3 linked regions of the Homo sapiens genome follow. The protein of the gene in region 2 interacts with the protein of the main gene of each other region in a pairwise test. Each region holds a gene or a part of one and is shown on either strand. Other genes may lie near its edges. The genes, in order: UQCC2, NRDE2 and CCDC183.

Region 1 (2,870 bases), on a different chromosome or scaffold from region 2:
AAAAAAGGTAACAGAAAAAAGCCCCTGCTCTGGAGCTTTTCCAGAAGTCCATGTTTCCAGTGTCCAGGTGGACACTGAGGCCTCCCTTAGGCGCTTTCCATGACCCCAATCCCAGGGTGGACACACACATAACCCAGAACACAGCACATTTCAGACTTGCCAGGCCCTCAAAGCCTCTCACTACAAGGTGCTGCAGGTCTTTTCTTGTCCTGTCAGAGGAAACATTTGGTAAGCTTACGCCACACAATTTGCAACAAAAATATGAGGCTTGCTGTGAAAACAAATTCTCAGCAAATTTCCTGAACTAAACTCGCTGCCAGAACAAGCTGCAGCGCGGACCAATGGCGGGACTATCTCCCAGCCTTCGTTGCTGCCTGTTTTCCACTTGCAGAGGCTGCCCTGAGGTGAACAAAACAGAGGGCAGAGGCAGGGCCTCTGGAACTTACTTCCGCCCTCACTTCAAGTTCAAACTTTGCTCAAACTGTCCAGGGCCCTCACAATAATGTGCATCAATGCTGCTAATTACACGGACCCAGGGATATAGGAGTAAATTTACACATTAAAAAAAATTGCCAATAAAGTGATTCTGCCTGGCCAAAATATCTTCACCACAGTTTCCCAGAGAGTACTGGAATAAAAATAGGGTTAGAGTTGACATGTAATAGCAGGTGACACCACCAGGTTTTAATCTCAGAAGAGAGTTTTCTAGAAGCCCAAATCCTCAAAACTTAAGTTGCTGAAGGCTGCCAGAAGAAGAGGAAAGACACATTTCTAGAATACCAGAAGGAAATGTGTCAGGGCCATGCCCTCCCAGAAAAGGTTAACCTATTTTTGTATATAATATACTTGGCAACAAAAATAGTAATTTTCCAGTACCTGCCTACTTCATCCCTGGCTCTCCGGCCCCCCTCCTTAGGGACAATGGAGATAGGGAAGTAAGGAAAGGACGGGCTTGGCAGGATGTTTCCTTTCTTGATAATCAGAGTCTATCAATGACTCTAAAACATACCTAGTTAAACTCATATCTAACCCACAGACCACGTCCCCTGGGTCACATAACTCTTAGGCGGATATCCCCAAACACGTTTATTGAATGGTTTTTTGTTTTAATTAAAACCTTCATTGTTTATAAAGCCCTCTTAAGACCATAAAAATAAAATTATTTTCCTTCCATCCTGATTTCAACTACTTCCATTTGGCAAATAGGTATTCCTCTGTTCCCTGATGCCCAGCCTTGAATTTAAAAGCCCTAAAGATAGATTTTCTTTTTTAAATAACGCCTTTGACCTTCTCCACAGTATATGGTCAAAATGCATGCGCCCTGTAGCTTCAGAATTTCCTCTGGGCTGTTCTACAAGACTTTCCATCAAGCAAAACTGTCTTCTTAGACAATTCCCCTTGGCCACTCAAACTCAGAATCATTTGCAAACCAATGAGAAAAGGCAGCTGTGCTTTCATTACCTGTGGACAGGATCAGCTTGTACTCTTCCAACGACAGGCCACTGAAGCTGGTGTCTCTGGGGCGAGGGTACTGGTCACCGGGGCAGAAAGGAAGTGAAGGGAGGGGAGAGATCAGCACACAAGCCCTGCTCTCTAACTGCATTTCACCTAGGCCCTGGGCAACCAGAGGCCAGGAGGCCTAGCAAGGAGAAGAGCAGCGCCACCTCGAGGTCAAGACTTGGCCTCGCAAGAACCAGTACAGTCTCCAGGAGGCAGCTCCAACTATAATGTACCCGTGAGTCCTCCCTGGAAAACGCAGGTATGGGTGGGGCCCCTGATTCTGCATTTCTAACCAGTTCCCAGGTGATGCCCATGCTGCTGCTCATGGATCACATGTTAGCAGGGAGGATTTAGAAAAAATCAATTTTCCACATAGGCATATGGCCACAAATGTTTGTGGAGTTAATGAGCATATTTTTCAAGTATGGGAAAAACCACTCTAAATGGAATTTGACAGTAATCATGTTGGGCCCAGCTCCGTAAAAGGAGGGCACTTTCCCAATCATCCCATCTTTATCACCAGAATGTGGGGAGGTGTCAGTTCCGTCAGAGTGGATGGGAAAATAGGTATAAATCCAATGGCTGTCAGACATTCCCAGGAGCACACACTGGCATATCAAATACATGGCTTCTATTCATAATTGGTTTTGTTTCTTCCCTATATTCACAATTTTAAATAGCTTTTATTTAGGTGGCCTAAAAGCCTCTACCAGGCACCTCTGTTGGCTTGGTTGAAATTACTGGTTTCATTTGAACGCAGCAAAGCCAAGTCTTTACAAAACATTACCTAATCAGATTTTCACTCATTCTTATTAGTTGTCCCGTCAGAAAGCTGGGTATATAAAAGACTGTGGCCCACTCACCTTGTGTTTGTAGTAGTTTGAATGGAGTCGCGCTAAGCTCTCGTACATCTGATCACAGGCCTCAGGCTCTGCAACCTGAAAAGCAAAGAATCCCAAAGGAGGTGAGCAAAGGAGTCCTGCCTCCCACAGTGTCTGTACCTTGAGGAAAGACCATACTTAATAAAGCGTTCACATGAAGCAGGCCTGCAGCTAGCACTGGCTTCTCCACTCTGCGGGAAGCAAACCTGGACTACAGCTCTGCTATTAGAAACTACTTTTTGGAGGCATAGCTCTGCCTCATCAACTCCCCAACCTACAGAAAAATCAGATCAATTAATCAGCAAACAAGCATTTGTTGAGCATCTGTGACTTGTGAGCCACGACACCAGCTGCAGTGGGAGATGCCACAATAGAAATGTAAGGTTGGAAAGGCGTGCCTAACAAAGGGGGTGCTGGGCAGAGTGGGCTACAGGGACTCAGTGGGGGAGTCCCCGCATGCTCAAGTGGTCAGTGCATGATGGAAGTGAG
Region 2 (3,652 bases):
ATTTTTGGCCAAGTGCAGTGACCCACACCTGTAGTCCCAGCACTTTGGGAGGTCAAGACAGGAGGATCGCTTCAGGCCAGGGGTTCAAGACAAGGCTGAGCAACATAGTGAGGCTGCATCTCTACAAAAAATAAGCTGAGTGTGGTGGCATGTGCCTGAAGTCCCAGCTATTCAGGAGGCTGAAGTGGGAGGACTGCTGAAGGATTTTGAGGCTGCAGTGAGCTATATTGCATAACTGCAGTGAGCTATATTGCATCATTGCATCCTGGGTAACAGAGGGAAACCCTACAAATTTTTCTGTAGTTGGGTGCAGTGGCTCACACCTGTAATCCCTGTATTTTTAGTAGAGATGGGGTTTCACCGTGTTAGCCAGTATGGTCTCAATCTCCTGACCTTGTGATCCGCCCACCTTGGCCTCCCAAAGTGCTGAGGCGGGCGGATCGCTTGAGGTCAGGAGTTCAAGAGCAGCCTGGCTAAATTTTGTATTTTTAGTAGAGATGGGGTTTCACCATGTTGGCCAGGCTGGTGTCAAATTCCTGGCCTTAATTGATCCACCCACCTCGGCCTCTCAAAGTGCTGGGATTACAGATGTGAGCCACCACGCCTGGCCGTTAGTTGATTATTTGATAAGGATTTTATAGCAAAAGTGCCTTCATTTAGGGAAACATTGTGTTAAATTATAGCCTAGGTCCTGTATAATTATTAAGATCTCATGCTAAGTGATAAATTGGATATAACCTAAATGTCTAATGATTGGGAAATGGTTAAATAAATTATGGCACATCCATACAATGGAACAGTTTGAAGTCAATACAAATTATATTTTCTAAGATTAATGGTATGAGGAGATGCTTTAAAGTAGGAAGGCAGGCCTGAAACTATGTGATATCAACTATTTTGAAAAAGGATGTATGTGCACACACATATATATACATACTGAAACACATATAGTGTCTGAAAGTAGATAGTAATATAGGCCAGTAACATTTTTCCCCTTCCCTTATCATTTTCATCTAATTTGTTATAAAAATGCAGCTGTTAGTTTAAAGTCAGGAAACAGTAAACATTTTTCAAGAGATTTTATGAATATCTAAAATACTGTATATTTTTTGTGAGACTAATGAGGAATCAATACTATTAAAAGAGGATAAAGGAGAACAAAACTAGCTTTTTAACTTAAAGTTTGTTCCTTAGGGAATGGCAGCCTTGTTTAGAACTACATTAGTGCTATTTTTTTTTTTTTTGAGACCAAGTCTCACTCTGTTGCCCAGGCTGGAGAGCAGTGGCTTGAGCCCGGCTCACTGCAACCTCTGCCTCCTGGGTTCAAGTGATTCTCCTGCCTCAGCCTCCCAAGTAGCTGGGATTACAGTCGTGTGCCACCACGCCCAGCTAATTTTGTATAGTTAGTAGAGACGGGGTTTCACCATGTTAGCCAGACCGATCTCAAACTCCCGACCTCTGGTGATCCACCCGCCTCAGCCTCCCAAAGTGCTGGGATTACAGGCATAAGCCACCACACCCGGCCTACATTAGTGCTATTTTATCTCATCACACCTTTGTTAAGGTTGTTTTTGACTCATAAATGGAATGGCAAGAGACTGTCATGAGATAGTCTGAAAGAATTGGGAGGGAGGCTAGATAAAAGGTTTGAGAGAGAATATTTATGTCTGTGTGAGAAAATAGTCCCCTACAGTGGAATTTGCTGTGTTTGGTCAGTGAGGAGGGCAGAGGCACTTAGAGAGGGGACCTGTTGACCGCAGAGAAGCCACAGAGGTGAGGGAGAGAGCCCGGCCCTGAACCAAGGTGAAGTGGAGCGGAGCTTCCTGGGAGCTGACAGAAGATGAAGGCAGTTCTCCCCTGCCTTTTTCTCCCCACGGCATTTCCGGTTTTATTAGGAAAAAATTTTAATATACAGCAAAAGTTGAAAGATTTTTACAGTGAATGCTCGTATAACTGCCCCCTACATCTACCATTAACTTTGTATCCATTAAGTTTGTATTGTACTTGTTTTGTCATATGTGTCCATCCATCAGCCCATCCTATTTTTTTGATGCATTTCAAAGTAAACTGCAGATCAATAAACAACCCCCTAAATACTTCAGCATGTGTATTATTAACTAGAGGTCAATATTTATTTAGTTTTATTCCTTTAATTGAAAATTTACATGCAATGTAATGCACAAAGCTTCATTCTCACCCGAACCTCTGTTAAAATGTGAAATATTACTCTGACCGCCAGAAGTTTCCTCGTGCTCTTTTCTGGTAAGTCTGTACCCCATTCTCCCAGAGGCAATCACCGTTCTTACTTGTTTCCACCCTCAATTCGTTTTTACCTGTTCTAAAATGCATGTAAGTGGAATTATACAGTGTGTACTCTTTTGTATCTGGCTTCTGGCTTCTTTCACTCAGTGTAATGTTTTTGAGATCATCCGTCCATAAGGCACTTACCAGTAGCTCCTTTTTACTGCTGGTAGTATTCCATTGTATGGCTGTACCTCTGTTTACTTATCCATCTTCTATTGATGGACACGTGGACTCTTTCAGTGTTTGGCTGTTAGGAATAAAGCTGCCGAGAGCATTTGTGCTCATGTCTTTGTGTAGACATGTGCTTTCCTTTTTCTTGGGTAAATATGTAGGAATAGAATTGCTGGGTCATAGGTTAGGTCTGTGTTGAATTTTTTAAGAAACAGCCAGATCTTTTCCCAAAGTGATTATACCAGTTTACATTCCCGCTGACAGCGGATGAGAGTCCTGGTTACTCCACAGGTTACTCACCAACATTTGGTGTTGTCAGCCTTTTAAATATTAACACTGTTCTAGTTGGTGTGTGGGGTACCTCATTGTGGTTTTAATTTGCATGTCCTTGTTGACTAAGGATGTTGAGTTGTTTTTTTTTTTATGTGCTTATTGGCTATTCATGTCTTCTTTTGTGGAATTTCAGTTCAGATCTTTTGCCCGTTTTTAAAATTGAATTGTTTGCTAACATACATACAGAAAAATGTACAATTTTCCTTAGCTTTTGCCTGTGCAAATATTCAGTAGTCATGTGTTTGTTAACTCTGGGGACGCCTACATGTTCCATAAAAGCGTTTTAGAACCCAACCTCTTTTCCTCTAGAGTAGAAAATAACCAAATGTAATTTCATTTGACATACTTTGTTTCAGGATTAAAAAAAGAATCTTAGGCCTATATGTTATCTTCTTAAGTAGGGACACAGGAAAATATTGAGAAAACAGGACTGGTCTAGGAAACAGATGATCCAGGTTCCCAGGCCTCAGTGTCCTTATTTAGGAACAGTTAAGAGAAGGGATGATAATTTTTGCCTTGCCTGTCACATATGGCTGTGATGATCAAATGACATAATGTGTGTGACAGTTCTTTACAAGGCTCCAGGAAAATAGAAATTACTAAGATCTAGAAGACAGGCATGATCTTAAATTCATGAGATGTTAAAGAAGAGTTGAAGTGTTATAGGAAGAAGTCAAGCCAGGCAGAAAGAAAGTTAATTACTAGTCCTTGTGTATCTCCAAATAGAAACAATCTGAAGGTGAGGTGAATTTGGTTATATGCAGTGAACCTGCATAACGAGAGTTTAGGTCTAATGCGCCTTTAGTCATTCAGAGGTAGTACACGTATTCCCTCAGTAACTTTT
Region 3 (4,320 bases), on a different chromosome or scaffold from region 2:
GTTTGCCTGGACTGGCTTTCCAAAAACAGTGACCAGAAAGGGAAGGGATCTATGTGACAGCACATGGGCAAAGGCCATTGTCGGGCTGGCTTGGGTCCCCCCAAATTTCTGTCCCCCAGGACCTCTGCATGTCTCTGTATTTGAAGACAGGGGCTTTCCAGAGGTCATTAAGGTAAAATGAGGTCATTGGGGTGTCCTCATAAGAAGAGGAAATTAGGACACAGACACACAGAGGGACGGCCACGTGAGGACACAGAGAAGACAGCATCTGCAAGCCAAGGAGAGGGGCCTCAGGAGACACCAGCCCTGCTGACCCGTGATCTCAGCCCCCAGCCTCCAGGCTGCTGTTCACATCCCCCAGTCGGTGGCGCCTTGTTTTTTTGTTTTTTTGTTTTTTGTTTTTTTGAGATGGAGTCTTACTCTGTCACGCAGGCTGGAGTGCAGTGACGCGATCTCAGCTCACTGCAACCTCCACCTCCTGGATTCAAGCAATTCTCCTGCCTCGGCTTCCCAAGTAGCTGGGACAGGCGCCCACCACCACACTGGGCTAATTTTTGTATTTTTAGTAGAAACGGGGTTTCACCATGTTGACCAGACTGGTCTTGAACTCCTGACCTCAGGTGACCCACCCACCTCAGCCTCCCAAAGTGCTGGGATTACAGGCGTGAGCCTCCACACCTGGCCAGTGGCACCTTGTTATGGCCGCCTGAGCCTACTAAGGCAAGGCTGGGAAAAAGTACCCCATCTCGTGTGTACCCCATCTCGTGCATACCCCACAGAGTTCCAGGCTGCCTGGTGCTCCAGGTACTCCCCTCTAAGGGAAGGGTGGAGGGGGTGCAGAGATGGAGAACATACCCTTTCTGGAGTGACACATGAACCCAAGACCCAGTAATTCCCAAAGGAAAGTGGGGGTGAAGCAGGGTGGGCTCCAGACAGCACAGAGAGGTCAGGGACAGAAGTCAGAAGAGATAAGGTGGGGGTGTCCCAAGAGCCAGGTTACCCAGTGCATGGAGTTTGGACTTGGGGCTGGGGGTGGGGGGTGCAGAGGGAGGTCCCGTAAGGCAGTATCAGAATAGTATCAGAATCGTTTTAGGAGGCTCGGCCTGCTGCTTTGTGGAGGATGGCTTGGGGCATGGGAGGGGCCAGGGAGGGAACCCAGTGCAGGTGTGAGCTGCCGGTGCTGCAGACCCATCACAAACCTCCCCCTCAAAGAAAGCACATCCGCCCGGCAGAGCTCCTAAGCCTCGAGCAGCTGCCAGGAGACTCATTTCAATTAGGACACATGTCTGGAGGCCACCCCAAGGTGGCTGGGGGCAGAGTGAGGCAGGAGGCCCTGCAATTCCAGGGTTGCCCAGGCACTGAGAATCCTGGCTCTCATCATAATGGGCTGAGGTTCTGGGGACAATCTGAGTGGCGGCTCTGAGCAAGCTGAGCCCAGGGAGGCTTTGAGGTACACAGGGTCCCTTGGGGGGCCTGAGAGCAGCCATGAGGAGGCACAGTGAGACAGATGTGGAAGAGCAGACCCAGGAGCTGAAGACCATCACTCAGCTCCAGGGTGAGCCTGCACCGCCGTGACCAGTCTCCCTTTCCCGTCTGGGGGTTTCTGGGTGCACAACTTTTTGTGGGGAAAAGAGAGATCAGATTGTTACTGTCTATGTAGAAAAGGAAGACATAAGAAACTCCATTTTGATCTGTACTAAGAAAAATTGTTTCTGCTTTGAGATGCTATTAACCTGTAACTTTAGCCCCAACTCTGTGCTCACAGAAACATGTGCTGTATTGAATCAAAGATTAATGCATTTAGGGCCGTGCAGGATGTGCTTTGTTAACAATGTGTTTGCAGGCAGTATGCTTGGTAAAAGTCATCCCCATCCTCCATTCTTGATTAACCAGGGACACAGTGCACTGCAGAAAGCCGCAGGGACCTCTGCCCAGGAAAGCCTGGGAATTGTCCAAGGTTTCCCCCCACTGAGACAGCCTGAGATATGGCCTCGTGGGAAAGGAAAGATCTTACCATCCCCCAGCCCGACACCAGTAAAGGGTCTGTGCTGAGGAGTAGTGAAAGAGGGAGGCCTCTTTGCAGTTGAGATAAGAGGAAGGCATCTGTCTCCTGCTCGTCCCTGGGAATGGAATGTCTCAGTGTAAAGCCGACCATTCCCATTCGTTCTATTCTAAGATAGGAGAAAACCGCTCTGTGGCTAGAGGCAAGATATGCTGGCAGCAATACTGCTCTGTTACTCTTTGCTACACTGAGATGTTTGTGTAACGTGAAACAAATCTGGCCTACGTGCACATCTGGGCATAGTACCTTTCCTTGAACTTATTCATGATAAAGATTCCTTTGCTCACATGTTTCCCTGCTGACGTTCTCACCACCTGTTGCCCTGCTACACTCCCCTCACCAAGATAGTAAAAATAATGATCAGTAAATACTGAGGGAACTCAGAGACCAGGGCTGGTGCAGGTCCTCGCATGCTGAGTGTGCCAGTCCCCTGGGCCCACTGTTCTTTCTCTATACTTTGTGTCTTTTTTTTTTTTTTTTATGAGATGGAGTCTTGCTCTGTTGCCCAGACGGCAGTGCAGTGGCGCGATCTCGGCTCACTGCAAGCTCCACCTCCTGGGTTCACGTCATTCTCCTGCCTCAGCCTCCCAAGTAGCTGGGACTACAGGCACCCACCACCATGCCCGGCTAATTTTTTGTATTTTTAGTAGAGATGCGGTTTCACCGTGTTAGCCAGGATGGTCTCGATCACCTGACCTCGTGATCTGCCCGCATCAGCCTCCCAAAGTGCTGGGATTACAGGCGTGAGCCACCATGCCCAGCCTCTGTGTCTTATTTCTTTTCTCAGTCTTCATCCCACCTGACGAGAAATACCCGCAGGTGTGGAGGGGCAGGCCCCCTTCACTTTTAGGGGATGTTTGTTTGGAGACAGAGTCTCGCTCTGTCACGCAGGCTCGAGTGCAGTGGCATGATCTCGGCTCACTGCAACCTCCACCTCCCGGGTTCGAGCGATTCTCCTGGCTCAGCCTCTTGATTAGTTGGGACATCAGGTGTACGCCACCACACTCAGCTAATTTTCGTATTTGTATTTTTATTTATTTATTTATTTTGAGACGCAGTCTCGCTCTGTCACCCAGGCTGGAGTGCAATGGTGCAATCTCAGCACACTGCAACCTCCACCTCCCGGGTTCAAGTGATTCTCCTGCCTCAGCCTCCCGAGTAGCTGGGATTACAGGTGCCCACCACCACGCCCAGCTAATTTTTGTATTTTTAGTAGAGACGGGGTTTACCCATCTTGGCCAGGCTGGTCTCAAACTCCTGACCTCAGGTGATCCATCCGCCTCGGCCTCCCAAAGTGCTGGGATTACAGGCATGAGCCACCGGCGCCTAGCTTATTTATTTTTTTGAGACAGAGTCTCATTCTGTCGTCCAGGTGGAGTGCAGTGGTGCAATCTCAGCTCACTGCAACCTCCACCTCCTGGGTTCAAACAATTCTGCCTCAGCCTCCTGAGTAGCTGGGACTACAGGCACACACCACCACACCCAGCTAGTTTTGTATTTTTAGTAGAGATGGGGTTTCACCATGTTGGCCAGGCTGGTCTCGAACTCCTGACCACAGGTGATCCGCCCACTTCGGCCTCCCAAAGTGCTGGGATTACAGGTGTGAGCCACCGCTCCTGGCCTAGGACTTTTAGTTTTAATACAGGGACAATCCAGGACATGGAGGGGAAAACAGACCCCCCTACTGCCCACTCCCTGACAGAGCTGGGAGAAGGGATCAAAGGGACCTGCATGGAGGGACTAAATCAGAGAGAGGGGCTTCAAGGAGACGTGAGCATAAGAGCAACACGGGCCCCAAAGCCAGAATGGACAGGAAAACACCCACCTGCTTCCATGGGCAGCAAATCTGGACGGGACCACAGGACCCTGCCATCCCTCTCCTTTGCCTCACCCTCCCCACCTGTCCACCTCCCCGCACCTGTCCACTGAGAGCCCTTCAGACAGCTGCTGCTGGGCAGTGGAGCGGTGTCCCCCAGGACAGGGCGGGAGGAGGGATCTTGGCCATGGAGGGGGCATCCCCCTGGACCCTGGGGCCTGGGGCCTCCCTGATGCAAGCCTCCCCCAGGGGATTCCAGGCCAGGCCCTTGGCCCAATCCTAGCCACTGTGTCCCCTCCACCTGCCCACAGAGCAGTGTCGGGCACTCCAGATCCAAGGGGTGAAAGAGAATATGGACCAGAACAAGGCCACGCTGGCCCTCCTGCGCAGCAACATCCGCCGCGGGGCCCAGGACTGGGCTTTGGCCAAGAAGGTACACAAA

Evidence for each region.
Region 1: the proteins of NRDE2 (region 2) and UQCC2 interact in binary tests that used the Homo sapiens proteins (3 or more experiments, as listed by UniProt).
Region 3: the proteins of NRDE2 (region 2) and CCDC183 interact in a two-hybrid assay, tested with the Homo sapiens proteins (one large-scale study listed by BioGRID).

Annotation. Positions count from the first base shown.
Region 1 is NC_000006.12:33,698,983-33,701,852, forward strand, and holds part of UQCC2 (ubiquinol-cytochrome c reductase complex assembly factor 2), read right to left. Parts: intron 2,439-2,870; coding exon 2,364-2,438; intron 1,532-2,363; coding exon 1,462-1,531; intron 1-1,461.
Region 2 is NC_000014.9:90,304,402-90,308,053, reverse strand, and holds part of NRDE2 (nuclear exosome regulator NRDE2), read left to right. Parts: intron 1-3,652. UniProt on the Homo sapiens protein: Protein of the nuclear speckles that regulates RNA degradation and export from the nucleus through its interaction with MTREX an essential factor directing various RNAs to exosomal degradation.
Region 3 is NC_000009.12:136,794,913-136,799,232, forward strand, and holds the start of CCDC183 (coiled-coil domain-containing protein 183), read left to right. Parts: upstream 1-1,425; 5' UTR 1,426-1,485; coding exon 1,486-1,555; intron 1,556-4,189; coding exon 4,190-4,311; intron 4,312-4,320.